2 separate regions of the Homo sapiens genome follow, and region 1 is linked to region 2. Evidence: fine-mapped expression QTL. A gene starts in region 2. The other region holds a variant in brackets. All regions are shown on one strand. Distances are between the middles of the regions.

Region 1 (5,371 bases), 71 kb before region 2:
TTTTTGTTGTTGTTGCTTTTTTTCTGAGACGGAGTTTTGCTCTTGCCACCCAGGCTGGCTGGAGTGCAATGGCGCAATCTCGGTTCACTACAACCTCCACCTCCTGGGTTCAAGCGATTCTCCTGCCTCAGCCTCCCAAGTAGCTGGGATTACAGGCATGCGCCACCATACCCAGCTATTTTTGCATTATTAATACAGATGGGGTTTCTCTATGTTGGTCAGGCTGGTCTCAAACTCCTGACCTCAGGTGATCCGCCCACCTCGGCTTCCCGAAGTGGTAGGATTACAGGTATGAGCCACTGCACCTGGCCGGCCACCTCAGTTTTGAAGGCCAGGACCACCACCCAGCAGAGCCATGGGGGTGCAGCCCCCATCACAGTGGGTCCAGAGGGCAGAGTGTCCAGCCAAAGAGGATTATTCCCAAGGCTTAAAGTCTACTGGAGTTTGTCTTGCTAGAATTTAGAATTGCCTGGCACTGAGAACTAAACTCTGATTTTTTTTATCTCGCCCAAATTCCTATCTAAGGGGCCTGGGGAGTCATGCCCTACAAATCATAAATTCTCATCAAATGGGTTTTATTTAACCCTATATATCATGATTTACTTTCCAACCTGACTCTGGCATAACATTAAGAGACAAGGAAAAAAAATCAAAACATTTTACCCCAAAACATGTTTCTTTGCCATATTTTGAAATGACCTTGCAAAGCTGTTCTCTATGGGAGAAAATGTGCATCTGTAAAGAATCTCTATTAACATAGCTAGATCTTTTCCTTCCAGACCCTCCCAATCCTAAAGAGAGTAACTAAAATCTGAATAGGAAACATTTGTCATCTATTGTCTCTAAGGGCAGCCACTAGAAGACTTCAGAAGAACTTTGGGCTCCACAATCTTTATCTTAATCTGAACATTCCTTTTCTATCAATCAATTTTGTCTTTAGACAAACTCAACCAATTGTCAAACAGAAAACGTTTAAATTCACTTATAGGCTAGAAGCTCCCCACCCTCCCAACCCCCCGCCCTTTGAGTCGTCCCACCTTTCTGGACCAAACCAATGTATTTCTTCTTTTTTTTTGAGATGGAGTCTCGCTCTGTCGCCCAGGCTGGAGTGCAGTGGCGTGATCTCTGCTCACTGCAAGCTCTGCCTCCCAGGTTCACGCCATTCTCCTGCCTCAGCCTCCCGAGTAGCTGGGGCTACAAGCGCCCGTCACCATGCCCAGCTAATTTTTTGTATTTTTAGTAGAGACGGGGTTTCACCGTGTTAGCCAGGATGGTCTCGATCTCCTGACCTCGTGATCCGCCCGCCTCGGCCTCCCAAAGTGCTGGGATTACAGGTGTGAGGCACCGCGCCCGGCCTAACCAATGTATTTCTTTAATGTATTTGATTGATGTCTCATGCCTCTCTAAAATGTATGAAACCAAGCGGTGCCCGGACCACCTTGGGCACATGTTCTCAAGACCTCCTGAGGGCTGTTTCACGGGCGATGGTCACTCATATTCGGCTCAGAATAAATCTCTTCAAATATTTTAGAGTTTGGCTTTTCGTTGACAGCACCTATCACTTCCTGCTGTTTTCGTTTGTTTGTTTTTGTTTTGTTTTGTTTGAAACAAGGGTCTCACTCTGTCCCAGGCTGGAGTAGAGTGGCACGATCTCAGCTCACTGCAACCTCTGCCCCCACCAAGCTCAAGCAATTCTCCCACCTCAGCCTCCTAATAGTTGGGACCACAGACGCGCACCATCATGCCTGGGGATTTTTTTAGTAGAGATGGGGTCTCACCATGTTGCCCTGGCTACACTTCCTACTGATTTCTCTCCCTTTTGTAATAGGGGTGGCTATCCTTTGCCTGTCCCACAAATGCATTTCTGGCTTCACAGGTTTCACAACTGGAGATAAATTTTGCCTCAGGATGAAATGTACCTATGGTCTCATTCATATCTGATTTTGATAATATGTGAACAAGGCTTTGCACTTTAGAGTTAAGAGTAGTTGATGCTGGAATGAGTTAAGACTGCTCAGGGTGTGGAGGTTGCAGTGAGCTGAGATTGTGCCACTCCACTCCAGCCGGGAACAGAGCAAGACTCCATCTCAAAAAAAAAAAAAAAAAAAAAAAAAAAAAAAAAAAAAAGGCCAGGCGCGGTGGCTCACGCCTGTAATCCCAGCACTTTGGGAGGCCGAGGCGGGCGGATCACGAGGTCAGGAGATCAAGACCATCCTGGCAAACACGGTGAAACCCTGTCTCTACTAAAAATACAAAAAATTAGCCGGGCGCGGTGGCGGGCGCCTGTAGTCCCAGCTACTCAAGAGGCTGAGGCAGGAGAATGGCGTGAACCCGGGAGGCGGAGCTTGCAGTGAGCCGAGATCGGGCCACTGCAGTCCCGCCTGGGTGAAAGAGCGAGACTCCGTCTCATAAGAAAAAAAAGAGGTAATTAGGTTTAGATGAGATCATGAGGGTGAAGCTGCCAGGATGGGATTAGTGTCCTTATAAAAAGAGGAAGAGAAATTCGATTTCTCTCTGCATGCATGCACCAATGTTCGGAGGTGAGCAGGTCTGTACAAGCCTTCGCCCAAGGAAGCTGAGAAGCTGAAGAAAGAGGCTGACAAATCCAGTTTCTCAGAAACATTTAATAGGGACTTCTTAACCTCAGATCCTGGGCTTATAAACCACAGGGAATTGGTCTAAGGGCAGGATTTATGGTAAGTATGTGAAAGGCATTAGAGGCATTCCCAGAACTGGGGTTAATCAGAAGTCAACATGGGCAGATTAGCATCCAAGATGGAGTTGTTTTCAGCCTCCACAAACAGGGAAAGGCCACGTGAGGAC[A/G]TAACCAGGAAGAAGGCCCTCACCAGGATCATGCCAGCACCCTGATCTTAAACCTCCTGCCTCTAGGACTGTGAGAAATGTTTGTTGTTTAAGCCACACAATCTACAGTATTTCCTAAAAGCAGTCTGAATGGACTAAAACACATGAAACTTTCCTCATGTTTCACTAAGGATATGCTGGGCCATAAAATGTACTGAAATCTTGAAAACGGCACAATGGGGTATTACAACACAACCACCAAAATTGCTAAAATTAAACTTTCGGCTGGGTGCAGTGGCTTACACCTGTAATCCTAGCACTTTGGGAGGCCAAGGTGGGCTGATCACTTGAGCCCAGGAGGTCAGGACCAGCCTGGGCAACATAGTAAGACCCCTTCTCTACAAAAATAAACAAAAATTAGCCATGCACCATGGCGCATGCCTGTAATCCCAGCTGCTCGGTAGGCTGAGGTCAGAGGATGGCTTGAGCCCAGGAGGTAGAGGCTGCAGTGAGCTGAGACTGTGCCGCTGCAGTGAGCTGAGACTGTGCCACTGCACTACAGCCTGGGTGACAGAGTGAGACCCTATCTTGGAAAATAAATGAATAAATTAATAAATTAAATAAATAAATAAATTCCTTAGAAATGGCCATGATCTATTCTTTTTTTTTTTTTTTTTTTTTTTTTTGAGACAGAGGCGGCTCTGTCATCCCGGCTGAAGTGCAGTGGCACAATCTCGGCTCACTGCAACCTCTGCCCACCGGGTTCAAGCGATTCTCCCTGCCTCAGCCTCCTGAGTAGCTGGGATTACAGGTGTGTGCCACCACACCCGGCTAATTTTTCTATTTTTTAGTAGAGATGGGGTTTCACCATGTTGCCCAGACTGGTCTTGAACTCCTGACCTCATGTGATCCACCCGCCTCAGCCTCCCAAAGTGCTGGGATTACAGGCATCAGCCACTGCACCCATCCGATTTCTTTTTTAACTGACAAAAATTGTATATATTTATAGCGTACAAAAATGATGTTTTGAAATATGTATATATTGAATGGCTAAATTGAGGTAATTAGCATATGCATTACTTCACGTACTTACCTTTTTTTGTGGTGAGAACACTCAAAATCTACTTCCTTAGCAATTTTCAAGTATACAACATATTATTATAAACTATAGTCACCATTATGATGTACAATAGATCTCTTGAACTTACTCCTCCTAAGTGAAATTTTGTGTCCTTTGACCAACATCTCCCTAATCCTGCCACCTCCTAGTCTCCGGTTACCACCATTTTATTCTGTTTCTATGAGTTTGACTTTGACACTCCACATATAAGTGAGATGGTGCTGTATTTGTCTTTCTGCGCCTAGCTTATTTCACTTAACATAATGTTCTCCAGGTACATCCATGTCATCATAAATGACAGGATTTCTGGATTTCCTTTTTTTTTTTTTTTTTGAGATGGAGTTTCACTCTGTTGCCAGGCTAGAGTGCAGTGGCATGATCTCAGCTCACTGCAACCTCCGCCTCCCGAGTTCAAGGGATTCTCCTGCCTCAGCCTCCAGAGTAGCTGGGATTACAGGCGTGCACCACCACCAGCTAATTTTTGTATTTTTAGTAGAAACGTGGTTTCACCATGTTGGCCAGGATGGTCTCGATCTCCTGACCTCGTGATCCACCCCCCCTTGGCCTCCCAAAGTGCTGGGATTACAGGCGTGAGCCACTGCACCCAGCCAATTTCCTTCTTTTTAAGGCTGAATAGTATTTCGCTGTGTACATATACCACATTTTCTTTATCCATTTATCCTGATGGACAGGTAGATTGATTGCATACTTTGGCTATTGTGATAATGCTGCAATGAACAAGGGAGAGCAGGTATCTCTTTGGGGTATGGATTTCATATCCTTTGGATATATACGCAGTGATGGGATGGCTGGATCATATGCACATGGTAGCTCTATTTTTAATTTTTGGGGGACCCTCCTACTTTTTTCCATGACAATGATTTATATCTGGTCTAGCATGTTGTATACATGAAATGTATACATCTGTTAAAACTCATCAAACTGAAACATGAAAGATCTGTGCATTTTACTGTATGTAATTATATATCTATTTTTTTTTCTTTTTAGAGACTGAGTCTTGCTATGTTGCCCAGGCTAGCCTCCAACTCCTGGGCTCAAGCGATCCTCCTACCTCAGCCTCCCAAAGTGCTGGGATTACAGGTGTGAGCCACTCCACCTAGCCTATATCTCAATATTTTGAAAAAGATTTATAATCCAAGTTTTGAAGAGGATGTAGAGCAAACTGGAACCCTCACATATGGCTGGTGGGAGTACAAATGGCACATTTATAACATGTTGGAAAGCTGTTTGGAAGTTATCTGCCTAAACTGAACACATTCACATAATAACTTAGTAATTCCACTCCTAGATACATACCCAGAAAAAATATGTTCCTTTTACGACGCTTTTTTTTTTTTTTTAATAGAGAGGGAGTCTCGCTCTGTCACCCAGGCTGGAGTGAAGTGGCTCAAAAAAAAAAAAAAATTGATTGCTTGTTCAGTGGGTGGG
Region 2 (5,371 bases):
AAGAGAGAGAAGCGACTCCTGCGGCTCCTGCAGCCCCGCCTCCCCAGCCCACTGTAGGCCCGCCCCCACAGGGCTGCTTACAACTGTGAGGGCAGCGCCAGTGCCCCCACTCCAGTCAGCCGGCCACGCTGTGGCCAGTACAGTCTCCCTCTCCCGCCAGAGCTGCCCATGCCACCCAGCGTCTGCCTTCATGTCCACCTAGAGTTGTCTGCACAGCCCAGAGTGCCTGCCCCCTCTGCGGGCAAGCCCGTCCACACTGCCTGGAAAGTCAGTTCTGTCTCTGGCCCAGCAATGGAGTTGGGCTGTGAAATCAGGCAAAACCTAGTCCTTCCAAACCAAGGGACCAGGTCAGTTAACCGGGGAGCTAGGGAGGAAGGCAGAGAAGCCAGGTATGACTCACCCACCATGTGTCGCGGCCTGGGTGCACACCACTGGGATTCTCGCACATCCCATCCTTCAGTCGCTTTGTGTTTATTGAGCACCTCCTGCTGCAGGACCTCCATGTCTGCTACATACACAATGCTCACAGGCTTGCTGGTCCCATCCTTCAGTCGCTTTGTGTTTATTGAGCACCTCCTGCTGCAGGACCTCCATGTCTGCTATATACACAATGCTCACAGGCTTGCTGGTGTCGCTTTGCTTTACAGATAAGGAAACCGAGGCTCGGAAAGGTGAACACCTTTGCCCAGGACAGTCCGTGCGTGAAGTGGGACAGAGTTTGGTTGGAGCTCCGGCAGCCTGAGCCCTGTCTCCTGTGAGCCCTGCATGTCCCTGGGTCGAGGCTGGGGATGCAGGGGTACGTGGGGAGGACAGGGCCTGGCCAGGAGTTGTTCTTGCTTCATGCAGGTTTGGGGGACAAGCACCCACTCCTCTCAGACCCCTCACGTACCCTTACCCTGCTCACACACACTCACAGCTGTCAGAGACTCAGCCACACACGCACATATGCGCCCATAAGACAAGGCTGCCATGGTCACAGGCTTCCTGTGTTCGGGCCTTTGTGCCTGGAGACACCCCTCACAGCCCCGTCCATCTGGGGCAGGTGCTGCCTCATGGGGCACAGAGCAAGCAAGTGACCCTCAGCCAGCATTTCTCTGTGTGGTGGCCTATGGGATGACAGACCTGTGGGCCTCAGAGGGACTGGTCGGAGGCAGTGTTGAGCTCTCGTGTTGAGGCTCCTGAAAGTAACATGATGATGACTGCATGTGGCGGTGTCCAGGTGTTCTGTGACTATGGGGCACCCAGACATAGCAAGACTCGCCACAGCAGTGACCTTACGTGGCAGCATCCAAGCTGTCCGGACATATATTAGGTCTGTGGGGCACACAGGCATGGCAAGACTCCATGTGGCAGTGACCCAACTTAGCAATGTCCAATGTCCAGGCTGTCCAGACACACTGTGACTCTGTGGGGCACTCAGATCTGATATGACCTGCATGACAGTGGCTCCATGTGGCAGTGTCCAGACACTGTATGCCCAGATGTGGCAGCGTCCAGACACTGTATGCCCAGATGTGGCAGCATCCGTCCAGCTGTGTGGCTGCCCTCCAGGTCTTCCCATCCAGGGTGGCCCTATCACTGTGACCCCCTCTCTCAGGCTCAGCAGTGGCCGACACGGGCCAGGATGCGGGCGTTGGTGGTGGCCTGCTCCCTGGCAGCCCTGGCCCGGGCTTGCTCCAGTAAGATCTGCAAGAGGCCGATGGGGACATCCAGCGATAGGACAATGCGCGAGCCAGGGTGGCGGGTGGGGCTGCAGTGGCTCTGGGCAGCCCACGGCCATGTGGGAGCAGCTGAGGGGCTCTCTGAGGCCGCAGGTCGGGGAGTGGTCTGGGGAGAATTCTGAGGGCGGAGCTGGAAGGTTGGGATAGGGGTCACTGGGACAACCAGGACTCTGCCCAACATCAGGACCATCAGCAACAGCAGAGCACACCTGGTCATCGTGAGGTCAGGCTGCAAGGAGAAAATGGGCTCAGGGCAGGGGCTCTGGTCAACTGGGGTCCATGGACAGAGACAGATGGCAAGGGCAGAGTGACAGAGCGGGGGATGGAGAGAGAGGAAGACACCGAGAAAGGGGTTAGAGAGGCCAGGCCAGGCCAGAGACAGAGAAGGGGAGACAAGAGGAGAGCCAGAATGAGACAAAGAGGCAGAAAGCAAGACAGAAAAAAAGAAACAAAGAAATCCAGAGACAGAGGGACAGCAAGAGAGGGAGATGAAGGAGATGGAGGCAGAGCAAAATGGAGACTAGAAGAAAAAGACAGACAGAAACCATCCCAGAGACAGACAGCATGATGGAAAGAAAGATTCAGACAGAAACACAGAGTCCACAGGAGGGCAGGCGGTTCTCAGCAGGAGAGCTTGCAGCTGATCCAGGAAACAGAAGGGCAGGAATCGGATCTCAGAGGCAGAAAAGCAGCCAGAGATCCCAGAGTCCCCTGGGTCCAAGCCCTCCATAAAGCCAAACCCCACATCCACTCAACCTCCAAGACCCTTCCCATCCCGACCCAACCCAGTCCTACCGCCACCAGCTGCTTCTGGGGTAAGGCAGCCTGCTGTGGCTGCCTGGGGCTGGGGCCAGGCACTACTGTCCTGTGGTCTGACCCTCTACCCCGCTTCAGGGCCCATTTATCTCCCTCAGCCCCCTGGGGTGGGAGCTGGTACATGCTTCCTGGCATGAGGCAGCCCCCCACCTATGACTCATCCCTCCCGGGGGTGTCCTTAGCCCCCACCCTATCTACTCTTTTCCGGGGACAAGTTGGGGACTGAGAATCACAAGACAGTGACCAGGACTGGGCAGAGGGACTCTGTACCCATGCAGAATAATACCAACCCCCCAAGGAAAACCTTCCCCCTTGAAACCCCCCATCTTCCCAAACAGTCACAACAGGAGCCTTTTAAAACAGCAGCTTTAATGCCCCCCAGAATCAGCACCATGTCATCACAGGCTTGGGTCAAGGGGCGGGTCAGACGCCAGTCACATCCGCTCACTGCCCACAGCCACCCCCCCACAGTGAGTCATCTGCCAGGGTGGCAGGAGCCACAATGGGGGTTTGTCCACAGGGGGGAAGGCTAGACCCACGGGACCAAGTCACTGAAATAACGGACGTGCACACGCACGCTCACGTGCACACAAGCCTCTAGCACCAAGGGGAGGGACAGTGGGGTTCTGCTGAGACCCCGACTCCTCCAGGGGATGCTGAATCTCAGCTCATTATCTGGGCCTCAGTCCTGGGCAGTACCTGGTGAGGACAGGTTGGAAACGGTCGTCAGCCATCTGACCTTCCCCGGAGACGCTCAGGCAGAGGCACCGCCAAGGGGAGGGAGCGGAGGCTACAACAGGAAGTGGGGGCTCTGACCTCAGAGGGGTCCATACTTAGGTCTTTAAAGGAGGGAACATGGAAGGGGACCCTACTGGGGGCTCCACGGCTGGGGCTCTATATTCAGCTCTTTGGTCTGGGCGTCTGCCCCAGGTCCCCTACTGCGAGGGAGCGTCTCCTCCAGGACCCTGACCTGGAACCCTGGCCCAAGGACTCCTCCCCCAGAACCCGATCCAGGCAGGCTCAGTGCCCAGTTCCCCACGGTGGGGGCTCAGCCCATACCTGTCCCCTGGCTCTGGACCACCCGGGGTGGGCAGCGGCGCTCGCAGGCCTCACGGGTCCCAAAACGGTTGGCATTCCCTCCACAGCCACCATAGACAAAAGGGTGACAGGCCTCTGTGCTGCCTGTCACAGCCCGATGGTACCAGCGCAGGGTGTAGGCAGTGCAGGAGCCCTCATCCAGTGGCAGGGAACAGGGGTCTGGGCCAATGGGGTCAAGTCAGCAGGGTTTGTGGGAATCAGAGAGGGTTGAAAGGTCAGGGGGAGGTCAGCAGGGCTCAGCCCTGCCTGCCCCTCCCCAGACCCCGCTGGCAGCCCCCCATTCTCACCATCACTATCCCAAGGAGCTTCAGGGTCCTGGTACTCCTCCACAGAATACTCGGAGTATTCAGAGTACTCATCATCCTCAGGGGGTACCCGCTCTGCAGGTAGGGCAGGGTGTGCTGGGAGCAGTGGCTGCTGGCCCCGGGGCAAGGTGGGCAGCACTGATTTCCACTGTGTGCACACAGTGCCCATGCGTGTGCCCTGCATGCAGACCCTACGTGCTTGGCGTGTGCCCTGCATTCATGGACACCCATGTGCGTGTCTCGGCCCCACCCATAGCTGCCCCACGGGTTCAGCTGTCCTCACCTTCCTCCTCTGCATGAGAGACGCGGAGCACAGGCACAGCATGGAGCTGGGAGCCGGCAGTGTCTGCAGCATAACTAGGGAGGGGTCCTGGAGCCAAGAGCAGGGGCCTCAGGGCCCTGAAGTCACCATGGGCAGCCATCCCAGCCAACCCCCCTGAGAGGACCCCAGTTGATAGGCAGGGCAGGGCCTGGGGTGAAGAAAGTTCTGGGAGTAGAAAACTACTCACGTGATCCAGATGCGATGAACTGGCCCTGGCAGGCTAGAGGGGGCAGAGAGGGATAGAGAGACAATGACAGAGAGAAGGATGGGAAGATGGAGAGACAGACAGAGACACACAGGCAGAGGGGTAGAGATACACAAAGAGATAGCAGGAGAGGGTAACAGGAGAGAGAGGAAGAGAGAGGGTGGGAGGTAGATAGAGAGATGGAAAAAGAGAAGAAGGCAGAGGAGAGGGAAGTTGGGAACAGGCCAACAAAAGGCAAGAGACAGAAGCAGGCCAGACACAGAAACAGGCAGGTGGTGCAGACAGAGACGGGAAGAGACAGCTTCACTCTGATGCCCCTCCCACCGGGTCCAGGTCAGGCCCAAGGGGACCAGCTCTGCTCCCACCATCATCCCACTCCCCACACAGCCAAGCTGGACATCTGAGAGCACTGCATGGCAATCCTCATCTGCCTGTGTGTCTCCCTCCACTGGGGACACATGTCATGTGTCAGTCCTGCAGCACATGTGTCCTTCTGTGTATCCATCCATCCCCCCATCTTCTTGACTGCTTGCCCTGTAAGTTCTAGGGGCCTGCCTGCCCTTGCCTAGGGTGCTGGGGTGGAGTGGGAGACTGCGGGCTGGGCACCACTCACCACAGTGCTGACTCATCTCTTGGCGCACAAAGCCCCGGATGTCATCCTCCTGGGAGCAGAAGACCACAGGGACCATAAAGAACCCATGGCCCACAGGAAGGACATAGGGCACATAATACAGGGACTATGGTGAGACTGCATGGAGCCAGGGCCCAGGGGTCAGGGTGCTGGGTGAGGGAGGTAGGGCCCCAGCCCACCCAGGCCCACCCAGGCCCTCCCAGGCCCATCCAGGCCCACACTCACCGTCAGTGCAGCTTCTCCCTTCTCGCCTCGAGGACCGGCAGGCCCTGG

The links. PIP is the estimated chance that this variant, and not a neighbour inherited with it, causes the effect.
Region 1: its variant is the best candidate, but not a certain one, in a credible set for the expression of UCN2 in esophagus mucosa (GTEx, PIP 0.60).

What each region holds. Positions count from the first base shown.
Region 1 is chr3:48,490,062-48,495,432 of GRCh38, forward strand. The region is part of intron 2 of SHISA5 (shisa family member 5); the gene reads right to left. Among named protein-coding and RNA genes, the nearest start is that of SHISA5, 11 kb to the right of the region's middle. The variant A/G (reference allele first, on the strand shown) is at 2,824.
Region 2 is chr3:48,561,187-48,566,557 of GRCh38, forward strand. UCN2 (urocortin 2) reads right to left here and starts at 2,595. Exons shown (of 2, transcript NM_033199.4): 1 at 2,517-2,595; 2 at 532-1,950. The coding sequence starts at 1,938. The coding sequence ends at 1,600. COL7A1 (collagen type VII alpha 1 chain) reads right to left here. Exons shown (of 119, transcript NM_000094.4): 113 at 5,324-5,371; 114 at 5,081-5,129; 115 at 4,450-4,482; 116 at 4,224-4,310; 117 at 3,923-4,015; 118 at 3,597-3,794; 119 at 2,887-3,236. The coding sequence ends at 3,220. It also overlaps a transcript of PFKFB4 not described here.